2 linked regions of the Homo sapiens genome follow. The protein of the gene in region 2 purifies or fractionates together with the protein of the main gene of each other region. This does not show direct contact. Each region holds a gene or a part of one and is shown on either strand. Other genes may lie near its edges.

Evidence for each region. Proteins that work in one complex are often made in the same cells at the same time.
Region 1: the proteins of PNLIPRP1 (region 2) and CACNA2D2 purify together in Homo sapiens (affinity purification with mass spectrometry; 2 studies listed by BioGRID and IntAct, with this or other methods). This does not show direct contact.

Annotation. Positions count from the first base shown.
Region 1 is NC_000003.12:50,363,680-50,368,243, forward strand, and holds part of CACNA2D2 (voltage-dependent calcium channel subunit alpha-2/delta-2 isoform b precursor), read right to left. Parts: intron 4,557-4,564; coding exon 4,459-4,556; exon of another isoform or gene 4,224-4,458; coding exon 4,133-4,223; exon of another isoform or gene 4,117-4,132; intron 4,026-4,116; coding exon 3,963-4,025; intron 3,843-3,962; exon of another isoform or gene 3,819-3,842; coding exon 3,715-3,818; intron 3,431-3,714; coding exon 3,332-3,430; intron 3,241-3,331; coding exon 3,152-3,240; intron 2,950-3,151; coding exon of another isoform or gene 2,947-2,949; coding exon 2,899-2,946; intron 2,660-2,898; coding exon 2,588-2,659; exon of another isoform or gene 2,485-2,587; coding exon 2,332-2,484; exon of another isoform or gene 2,184-2,331; coding exon 2,131-2,183; exon of another isoform or gene 2,010-2,130; coding exon 1,954-2,009; exon of another isoform or gene 1,804-1,953; coding exon 1,677-1,803; intron 1,506-1,676; coding exon 1,396-1,505; intron 1,298-1,395; coding exon of another isoform or gene 1,292-1,297; coding exon 1,209-1,291; intron 1,128-1,208; coding exon 987-1,127; 3' UTR 1-986. UniProt on the Homo sapiens protein: The alpha-2/delta subunit of voltage-dependent calcium channels regulates calcium current density and activation/inactivation kinetics of the calcium channel.
Region 2 is NC_000010.11:116,593,157-116,598,459, forward strand, and holds part of PNLIPRP1 (inactive pancreatic lipase-related protein 1 precursor), read left to right. Parts: intron 1-1,573; coding exon 1,574-1,708; intron 1,709-3,057; coding exon 3,058-3,166; intron 3,167-4,671; coding exon 4,672-4,791; intron 4,792-4,882; coding exon of another isoform or gene 4,883-4,890; coding exon 4,891-5,010; intron 5,011-5,303. UniProt on the Homo sapiens protein: May function as inhibitor of dietary triglyceride digestion. Lacks detectable lipase activity towards triglycerides, diglycerides, phosphatidylcholine, galactolipids or cholesterol esters (in vitro).

The DNA.
Region 1 (4,564 bases), on a different chromosome or scaffold from region 2:
AAAGGTGCAGGCAGTGGCATGTGGTCCCACTGGGGGCCTGACACTAGTGAGAAATGGTTACAATGAGCACCTGGAGAGGTGAGGGGGCACTTGGAGGACACTGGTGGCTAGGGGTGGGACAGAGGGTTCTTCACCCCCTGCCCCAGCATTTGGCACTGTTTGACATTCAGCTTTAGAAATGGGAGGACCAGCCAGGCTGCAGCTCAGATTAGAGGCAGGTGGTGAGCAGGAGATGGAGTGTGCAGGTGCCAACCCTCCCACCAACCCCTCGCCCTGTGTAAGGCTTTGTAAGCCCCTACACCCACCCCACCCCATAGTGTGTGTGTTTGTGCGTGTGCCCAGTGGGGTATGTCGAATGTGAGTCCAGTTTCCATCCTCAATGTTCCAGGTGTATATGGGGTAGTGTCTGAACTGGTATCACTGTGACTATCCTGACACCTGGTGGGCTTGGGGATGTGGCTGTAGGCCTGAAAGGGGCAGGAGCCCATGGGGGCTGCCCCAGAGCCTCTCTCCTGCTAGGATTTAAGCTGGGAGGCACAGGCTTCAAACTGGCCATCTCACCTTCCTCCACTATTCTCACAGAAACCAAGTTTGGGCTTGGGTGGGGCAGAGAGGCCGGGTCAGCTGAGGCAGGGTCCCCCCCAACATAGGCAGCCTCCAGGAAGGGCGGCAGCAGAGGCCTGGTTTTGGCACCAGTGCGTGTGGCCTCCCTGTCCCATCCCACTGGGGGGAGCCCAGCAGGCAAGAAGGGTCTGGGGACACTTGAACAGTTCGGAGGTGAGATGTGATTTGGGTGCCAAACACCTGCGGCGTCCCGCTTTGGGACTCCCCATCCCAAGGCGCAGACCAGACTCTCAGGGCCTGGCCAGCTCAGGTCCTTCAGTGAGGGAGGGACGAGGCTCTAAGGCGGGGAGTGTGGGGCAGGAGGGTGGGAAAGGCGAAGAGGCCGGGTGAGGTGGGAGTGGAGGTGGGGTGGGGCAGGGTGCTCAGAGGCGGCGAGAGGCGTGGACGAGGACTTGAGGCTGCGGCCGGGGCGGCAGGCCCAGGAGGAGCAGCAGTTGCAGGGAGACCAGGACGCCCAGCGACGGCGGGAAGGAGGCCCCGCGGCCACAGTCTGAGGTATCTTCCTGCGGGGAGAGACAAGGAGCTGGTCGGCCTGGGCGGGCGCAAGGCCGCGGGATTTCGGGTCCACCGCCCCCTCTCCTCACTGTCGCGTTGTAGTCGAAGCAGATGTGCGGGCCTCTCCGGTATCGCGGTCTCTGCACTAGCTCACACTGCTCCGGGCCGTCCGCTGGGCATGGGTGGGGAGTCAAGGAGGCGGACGGCGGCGGCGGCACGGAGGGGGCGCGCGGGGCAGAGGGGGAGCGGGCGGCGGGGAGGGCGGGGGCAGGATACAGTGCGTCTCCTTCTGCAGCAGCCGGCCAGCCTCGCACTGGCTGCACAGCGGCTTCTCGGCCACCACAAAGAGAAGATTGGTGTTGGTCAGTCTCTGCGCGTGGAACAGCCTGCGGGCAGCCCGGAAAGGCGGGGCGTTGAGTTTGCCCCGCCCTGACCCACCCCCATCCTGCGGCCCCGCCCCCGGCCGCTCGGAGGCCCCGCCCCTTCCATCCTCCCGAGCGTCTCGCCCCGCTCACAGGTTCCGCCCTTGGCCTCTGGTCCCGCCCCACTGCCAGCACCTGGAGCAGTTTCCGCAGTCGATGATGGCGTTGTAGGAGGCGTTTACCGAGCCGAAGTAGTACTGGGTCTGTTTCATGACGCAGCTGCTCTCGCGCGTCTCGGGGCTCCCCTCGGCCTCCGCGGGGTCTGCGAGGGCCCAGAGCGCCTCAGCTCCGCCCACAGACCCTGGCAAGGTCTCCGGCCTCCCTCAGTCGTAGACCCCACCCTCCCCATGGAGTCGTCTTAGCTCAGATTGGGGACCCGGACTTGAGGAGGCGCCTCCAAAGCCCTACCTACCTGCTTGGAACCAGCTGTGGTAGATGAGGCCGTAGAGAAGCTGCTGGAACAGGGACCTGCAGCGCACGGGGAGCCGAGTGCAGGTGGTCAGCAGAGGACGATGCCATGCCCTACTTCTCTTCTGAGCCCTCCCGGCCAGGGAGCACCTTCTCTACCCACCTCCCGCTCAGGACTCACCAGGCGGCAGCAGAGGTCCACCAGGCCAGGTTAAGGAAATCTGCAACGGTGGGCTGCAGTGGAGAGAGGGGCGTGGACTGCCACTGCTGCCCCTCGCCCTAGGTCACCCCCAGCTTTATCAAATGTCAGAGGTAGGGGGTCATCTGTGGGCAGGTCTCCCAGTCCCCCCCATCTCCAGTCCAGGCATCTCTGGGGACTCACCACAAAGACACCCCGGGGTGCAGCACCCAGGTTGCCAGGGGGCTGAGGGGCACAGGCTGCCTGATAGTCATAGGACTCCTTGCGGGTGTAGAAGGAGTTATTGTAGAGTGCCAGCATCAGGTTGGCATCCACCTCACTGAAGAACCTGCCCACCTGAGGATGTCAGGAGAAAGCCATGGTCACAGGGCTGGCAGTGCTACACCCCTAGAAGGCTCAAATCCCTACTCTCTTCTTTCACTCTCTTCCTGATCCTCACCTGGTCCCACTGATGGTTCTGGTTTGACAGCACCAGGAATCCTCCATCATCAATGAGGACACAGAGTAAGTCCTAGGAGGAAGGGAATGGGGAGGAAAATGGAGAGGGGCTGGGCCCCGGACCTTCCACCGCAGGCAGTCCAGTGGTTCAGAGTTGGGGGGCATCACTCCCCCAGTCCTGGGAAGGCTGTGAAGTCAGGGTGGGGATGTTGAGACCCACAGGCCAAGGGATGTGCTGGGAGTCGCGGCTGGGACTAGGAAGTCTGGAAGTGGGGTAAGCTAGGGTCCAGGGTAGGTTCAGGGCACACACACCTCATTGTTAACCTCGCAGTCCATCTCACAGTGGCTGTTGGGGCCGCACTGCTGGGCAGAGAGTGAGGACCGTAAGCCACCCACCAGTTTTCCTCCCTCCCATCACCTTTCATACATCCGGTTCCCCAGGCCATCTGCAGCTGGCCCTGCCTCCATGTAGGTGTTGGAGCCACTGAGTGGAGGGTTGGTGGGGGTTCCAGGGGACTCCAGGAAGGGCACTGCTGGGTTACTGCCCCCGCCCCTGCCCAAATACCTTCTGAGGCTGGTCTTGGTGGGTACGGTTGCTGGCTAGCACCTTGAACTTCTCAGCCCAAGCCTCTAGGTCCAGCTTGACGCCCACCACTTTGGGGGAGAGCAAGGGACCATCAGTGCTACCTGCCCAGGCAGTACCCTGTCCATTGCCTGTTTCCCCACCTCTGTCCCAAACATTCACCTGCTGGCCTCAGTGTGCGCCTGCCTAGGCTGAGCTCCACAGCTGTGCTGACGAGGATGCCCACAGTGTCATTCTCCAGCTCCAGCGGCCTTAACAGGGCTGGGGGTTGGGTGGGGAAGTCAGGAGTGGGGTCTGGCGGCCACACTGACCACTCTATGCTGGGTCCTACAAACCCAGCAGTCCAATCCCGGGATGACTCCAGCCCAAGCACCCAGCACTCAGGACAGTGTTTGGCACAGTCTATCCCTCTTTTCACGTCTGCCCTGGCCTCAGCCAGCCTTGTGTTGGAGAGGGGCCTCAGACAGCAGAGCCCAGTTCTGGCTGAGCAGACAGGGAAGCTGAGGCTCCCTGCCTGCTGCTGGGCACACTGCGGGGACACTCACCATCCTGGTGTGGGGGCTTGAAGACATAACCGTGGTTATCCAGGCTGCGGCGGTAGAAGCTGGCATTGAAGGGCTCAGGGTTCTCTGTCCAGTCCTCAGCTGCCCTGGAGCACCCAAGAGGCAGACTGGTAGGTAAGGGGTGGCTTGTCGGGGACAGTGGTCTCCACAGATGCAAGGAGGCCTCTGGGCAGAACAGATGCAGGTTCCCTGGCAGGGGCAGGGTTTGGGTAGTGGGATAGGTCACTTACTTGTTGGGGAAGACTCGGGTGATGCCACCGTCTGTGGCAGCGAACACGGCCAGTAGGCTGTACCTGGGGGTAGCAGGGGGGTGGGGTCACAGGCCTGCCTTCTGCTGGGCAGGTCCAGGGCCTCTGGGCCCATCCTAGCCTTCTGCCCCCACAGGCTGGGTGATGCCTACGTGTTGAGATCCTGGTCCCTCCACACACGCTCTACCAGCTGCTGCGTGATGCCCGTGTCCAAGATCAGGTTGTGCAGAAGGAAGTTGTTGCCTGGAACAGGAGGGGAGGGGTGGGGGTGGGGGCATCTTCTTGCAGCTCCTTGCCCACCCTCACCCCCACCCTTAAGGCTCCACCAGGAGCCTCCTCCATGACCTGGCCCTGGCCCAGGCCCAGCCCTTAGCTTGTGCCTGCTTATTTCCACACCTGCCCGGCCTCTGGGTTCCTCTGGGCTGGCCCCATGCTGCCTGGGCACTGCCCAGAGCCAGCTGCCCTGCCAGGCACTCACACTGCTTGGAGTCTGGAGTCACTTTCTCCATGAGCTCAATAAAGTTTTTCAGGAACTCGGTGTTGTTGTCTGAGGCATTCAGGTCCTTGCAGTACTCTCTAGGGAT
Region 2 (5,303 bases):
GACTCCATCTCAAAAAAAAAAAAAAAAGAAAACTAAGATTAAGTTACTACAATGACAGAATAGAAAGTGTCACCTACATGTAATATAGGTCAGAAGGAGAGCAACAGAAGAATACACACATGTGCACACACACACATACATACATGGACATGTGTGCAACTTGTGCATACACACACAAACACACACACATGTGCGTGCAATATACCACAATATACCATCATCCTTTCTATTTATGTGGAGACTAGTTCAATCGATTTTTCTGTCACCTAAGAATTTACCTACCCCAGGAGCCTGCCTTCCACACATACATTAATAACACCAACCAGTAATGTCAAAAGGAAAAATTACAAACCCAGAAAATTAAAGTCATTCTGCACTTGCCCTTGGTTTAACAGGCATTTCACTCTTGGCACCTTTCCTGTCCTATCATTAATAAGCATCTTATTGATACAGTTTATACTCCAAATTCTCCAGGCTTGTGAAAGTTTCCTCAGGATTGCTTGAAAATGAAAGTCCTGGCCAGGTGCGCAGTGGCTCATGCCTGTAATCCCAGCACTTTGAGAGGCCGAGGCGGGTGGATCACCCGAGGTCAGGAGTTCAAGACCAGCGTAGCCAACATGGTGAAACCCTGTCTCTACTAAAAGTACAAAAATTAGCCAGGTGTGGTCGCAGGCGCCTGTAGTCCTAGCTACTCAGGAGGCTGAGGCAGGAGAATTGCTTAAATTCGGAGGCAGAGGTTGCAGTGAGCTGAGATCGCGCCACTGCACTCCAGCCTGGGCGACAGAATGAGGCTGTCTCAAAAAAAAAAAAAAAAAAAGAAAGAAAAAAAGAAAAGAAAAGAAAAGTCCTGAGGAGAAAACTCCCACTATCTCTGTGCATGTGATCACACATATTAGTATACTATATGTGGAATGATTCCAAGTGCATTTTAAATTTATAGTACCATTTTAAATTCAAGCTGGTAATATGTACTGCCTGGCAGAACTCCTAAAGATATATCAGCTCCTTTGACATCCAGGAAGACATTTTCCTTCCAGAATTCTTCAATCTCTTTTAAATCAGTACAGTTCTATTTTTCAAATATCTACATGTGTCTACTCCATGAAGTACTGTGTCATCGTGACTATAAAAATAGTGAAACTTCTCTCTCACTTTCCAGCAGCCTGGGGCATCGCCAAGAGCCTGAAAGGACCCCTTACAGTCAAATCCACAAGGTCATTTAGACACTGGCCACCGGAGATTGCACCTAAGACTTTTCCTTTTCAAAACAGGACTCTTTTCATGATGCAATTGTTTTTCCCTTACTAACCAACCTTACTGAATTTGGTTGAAGGAAACCAGAGAGTAGCCAGCTTCCAATTAATCTGCAAGCTGGAGGGGGAATCAGTTTGCCTTTCTCATAGCATTCACCCTGAAGGATAACTCCTAATTACCAACAGGATTCCCTAACAGAGTCTAGTTTATCTCATGCCCTAGCTAGGAGAAGAGAGAAGTGGCCATTTCTGAGCCCTGGCTGGATAAGGTTTCCCCTGCTCCCATTATCTCCCCAACCCCACTATCTCCCCAACACCAGAAACTGTTCGAGGTGGAGGAGGTGAACTGCATCTGCGTGGACTGGAAGAAGGGCTCCCAAGCCACCTACACACAGGCTGCCAACAACGTGCGAGTGGTGGGCGCCCAGGTGGCCCAGATGCTCGACATCCTCTTGGTGAGTCAGCTGGCTGGCCTATGTGAGGAGGGAAGCAGTGCCTGCTGGTCTCTGTTTGGTAGAGATGCAGCTGAGAGTTATGGATTAAAGAAGGACAAAGAATTGATATCCAGACCTTACTTCTAAAACTCTGAAATTTGCCTTCATAATGACACGCCAGTGGAAGCAAAAATAAGAATCGCTAACACTTAGAAAGTGGTTTTTTAAAAATCATCTTCAATTTACAGATAAAGAAACTGAGGCCCAGAAAGTTTAACTAGTTTGCTCCCAAAGTCATAAAGCAAATGAATAGAAGACCTGCCTTTTGATCCAGACCATCTAGCTTCAGAATTCACCCACAACACCAGGTGGGCTCTGTTTCGCGTGAAACACAGCATGGCCAGAGAGAGCCACAGAGAGCCAACGGACAGTACGTGCAATTGGCATGTACCAGCTCTACTGGCCTGGTGGTATGGGTCCTATTGATGTTGGGGAATTCCTTCTGCCACAATCATTTCACTTATTTCTTCCTATACTGTTTCATTATAGCTAACTCCTTCAGTCTTTAATTCTTTAAGTTGCTAATCCTTTGTGACTATTTTCTATACCAGGTAATGACTACAGCCATTTCTGTCTTATAGTTAAAGGGTCTACAAAAGAATCAACTTCTGCACTCCTGCAGAAATCAAAACCCATGGTATTTGTGCAAGAAGTATGATAGACCAATAAATGAAGTGCCTTTGGGTGAACGTCTCTGAGATCAACATGTGCAAATACCTCATAGCTCTATTTGATTTGCTTGTTCACCAGTACTTTTGGAGCAGAATGTCAGGAGTATGTGAGGAAGTAAAGAAGACACATGAGATCCCAGACCATCAAGGAGCTTGCAGTGAAAACTTGCAATGCCAGTAGAGTGCGATCTATTAGTGGGTTCTGATGGGGAGAGTAGGAGCTTTACAGGAACACATAGAAGGCAGCTAATCCACACTGATGGGGTGGGGAAAGGGCTTAAGGAGGTCTCCCAAGGAAGAGACGTCTAAATTGACAGCTGAAGGCTAGTCTGTTGATGTTAGCTGGCAAGTGCTTGGGGGATAGACAACAACAAGAAGAGAAGAACAAACCAGGCCCAGAGGTGAGAGGCTATGATGTATTCGAGGGTCTGAAAGTTCAACAAAGGGTTTGGCTGAAGAGTCTAGAAAAATAGATGATGAGTTAGGAAAGCTCGGAGGCCTTCAGAATGAGTTTGGGCTTGATCCTGAAGGCAATGAGAGGCATGGAAGGTTTTCAGCAGAGGAGTAATATCCATTAGGCTGGCATTTTAGAAAAACCACAGCAAAAAATGTCCTGAAAATACAATCTTCCCTCTCCAGACAGAGTATAGCTACCCCCCTTCCAAAGTTCACCTCATTGGCCACAGCCTGGGAGCCCACGTGGCTGGAGAGGCAGGAAGCAAGACTCCAGGCCTGAGCAGGATTACAGGTAAGGCCCCAGAGGCAGGGCCCCAGTTTTGTCCCCAGAAACCCCAGAATGAGGTCTCAAGAATGCAGCCCAGTTCAGAGCTCCCCTGAAGGAGACTGTCCCCCTTGGCTGTGATAGAGCTGCTTGGAGCCTGCACAGAACATTTTAGGGAGCCCCCAAGAAGCTCATGCGCCACCTTCACGGCAAGGGAAGGGTGATTTTGTTCCTCTTTGCTTCTTCCACCTCTGTCCTAGCCCCTCCTTTCTAAGTCCTGGTTTTCTGGTGGTGTTCGCCTCTCAACAGGACTGGGCACCCAGGAAAATGCAGAGTGAGACTAGTATGAACATGAGCAAAACATAATCAAGGAGGGTCTATATTGCCAATTCTTTCTCCCTTCTCTTTGAAATCAAGGGCAGAATAGAACCTAAAAATTGTTTCCCACTGCTTCTACTAGTAGAAGAAACCCAGTCGCCATTATGGCCAAAAGCATTCTTTTAACCCAATCAAAGCATTTGAATTATAACAGCAACAGCAAGATATATCTACATAATATGATGGTGATAATAATAATAATAATGCTATTATAATTATTATGATAAGCATAGATTAAGTGCCTGCTTATCCCAAATACTGCACAAAATGCTTTATATTTTCTTATATAATTCTCAGAACTGAAGAAAAAGGCTCAGGGATGCAAATAACTTGCCCAAAGCCACACAACTCATCAGTGGGAGAACTGAGATCCAGACCTGGTTTTGCCGATGTTTGGCTTAAGCAACTCTTTATAAGAAATCTCTCTTTTATTTTCAGCTGGCAACTACATTCACGTTCCTATTTTATCAGCTGCTGTAATGAAGCCTTCAAAAACTATTAACAAATCCAAGATCCCTACTAAGAAGGAAATTTGTCAAAAACAATAATTATTAATATCTTACTTATACACCCATGACTATACACCAGGCATTGTGCTAAGTGCTACCTATTAACTCATTTAATCTATAACAACCATATCAAATAGATGCCATTATCACCCCATTTTGTAAAATGAAGAACCTGAAGCACAAAAAGGTAGAGTGACATGCTCAAGGTCATGCATCTTGCCCCAAAAGCAGCTGAGTAGGAATTTGGAGCCAGGCAACCTAGACCCAGAACCTGTGTTCTTAACTATGATACCACATTGCTTCACCCCTTTCTTTCTACAAGCTTGGGGAGAGAAAGGATGATGAAGAAGAAAGATACACAAGTAAATGGGAGACTCTGGTGTGGAAAAAATCCTTGCTTAAACAAAATCTAAATTTCTTTGCTCATTTGTCCTCCTCCATCCACGCCACTGGGAACCCTTTTGCAATGAGCCACATTCAGACTCTATGTCCTCATATTTAGCACCCAAGGCCATGGCACTGCATCACTCTGGTGCATGGTACCCATTGAGTTGGGCAGTGCATAGCCCGGGCAGCTGTACACCTTGGTGCTGCTGACATCTACAGTCAGGTCTATTGTTCTGCAGTGCTGATCATCTCTTTTAGGGTTGGATCCTGTAGAAGCAAGTTTCGAGAGTACTCCTGAAGAGGTGCGACTTGATCCCTCTGATGCTGACTTTGTTGATGTGATTCACACGGATGCAGCTCCCCTGATCCCATTCTTGGGTGAGACCTATGATGCTCCAGCTGTGAGCACGCACAACTGTGTTTTAACCATGAAAGTCCTGCATGACAAAAAGCTCATTGTTTTTCTAAGCATTTCAGGTTTTGGAACGAACCAACAGATGGGTCATCTTGACTTCTTCCCCAATGGAGGAGAGAGCATGCCGGGATGCAAGAAGAATGCCCTGTCTCAGATCGTGGATCTAGATGGCATCTGGGCGGGTAAAGTCATGGTGGGGTGAGGGGAGCAGGGCGGGTACTTTCCTGGAGTGACCAATACCTTTCTGCAGCAAATCTTAAGAATAAAAATGAAACTGTCTTTAAAAATATACAATTCCCTCTTCTGGGGATTATTTCAGAAAAAATGTAGCTACATAGTATTTGTTATATCTCAGCTTTACTGCTTTTGTGCTTCCTTAAAACATTGCTGTGGATGTCCTGGCATGTACAAGCAACAAAGAATTATAAAACTGTCACTTAAAGCTGTGACTCCAGCAATCAGTTGGTAGTTACCT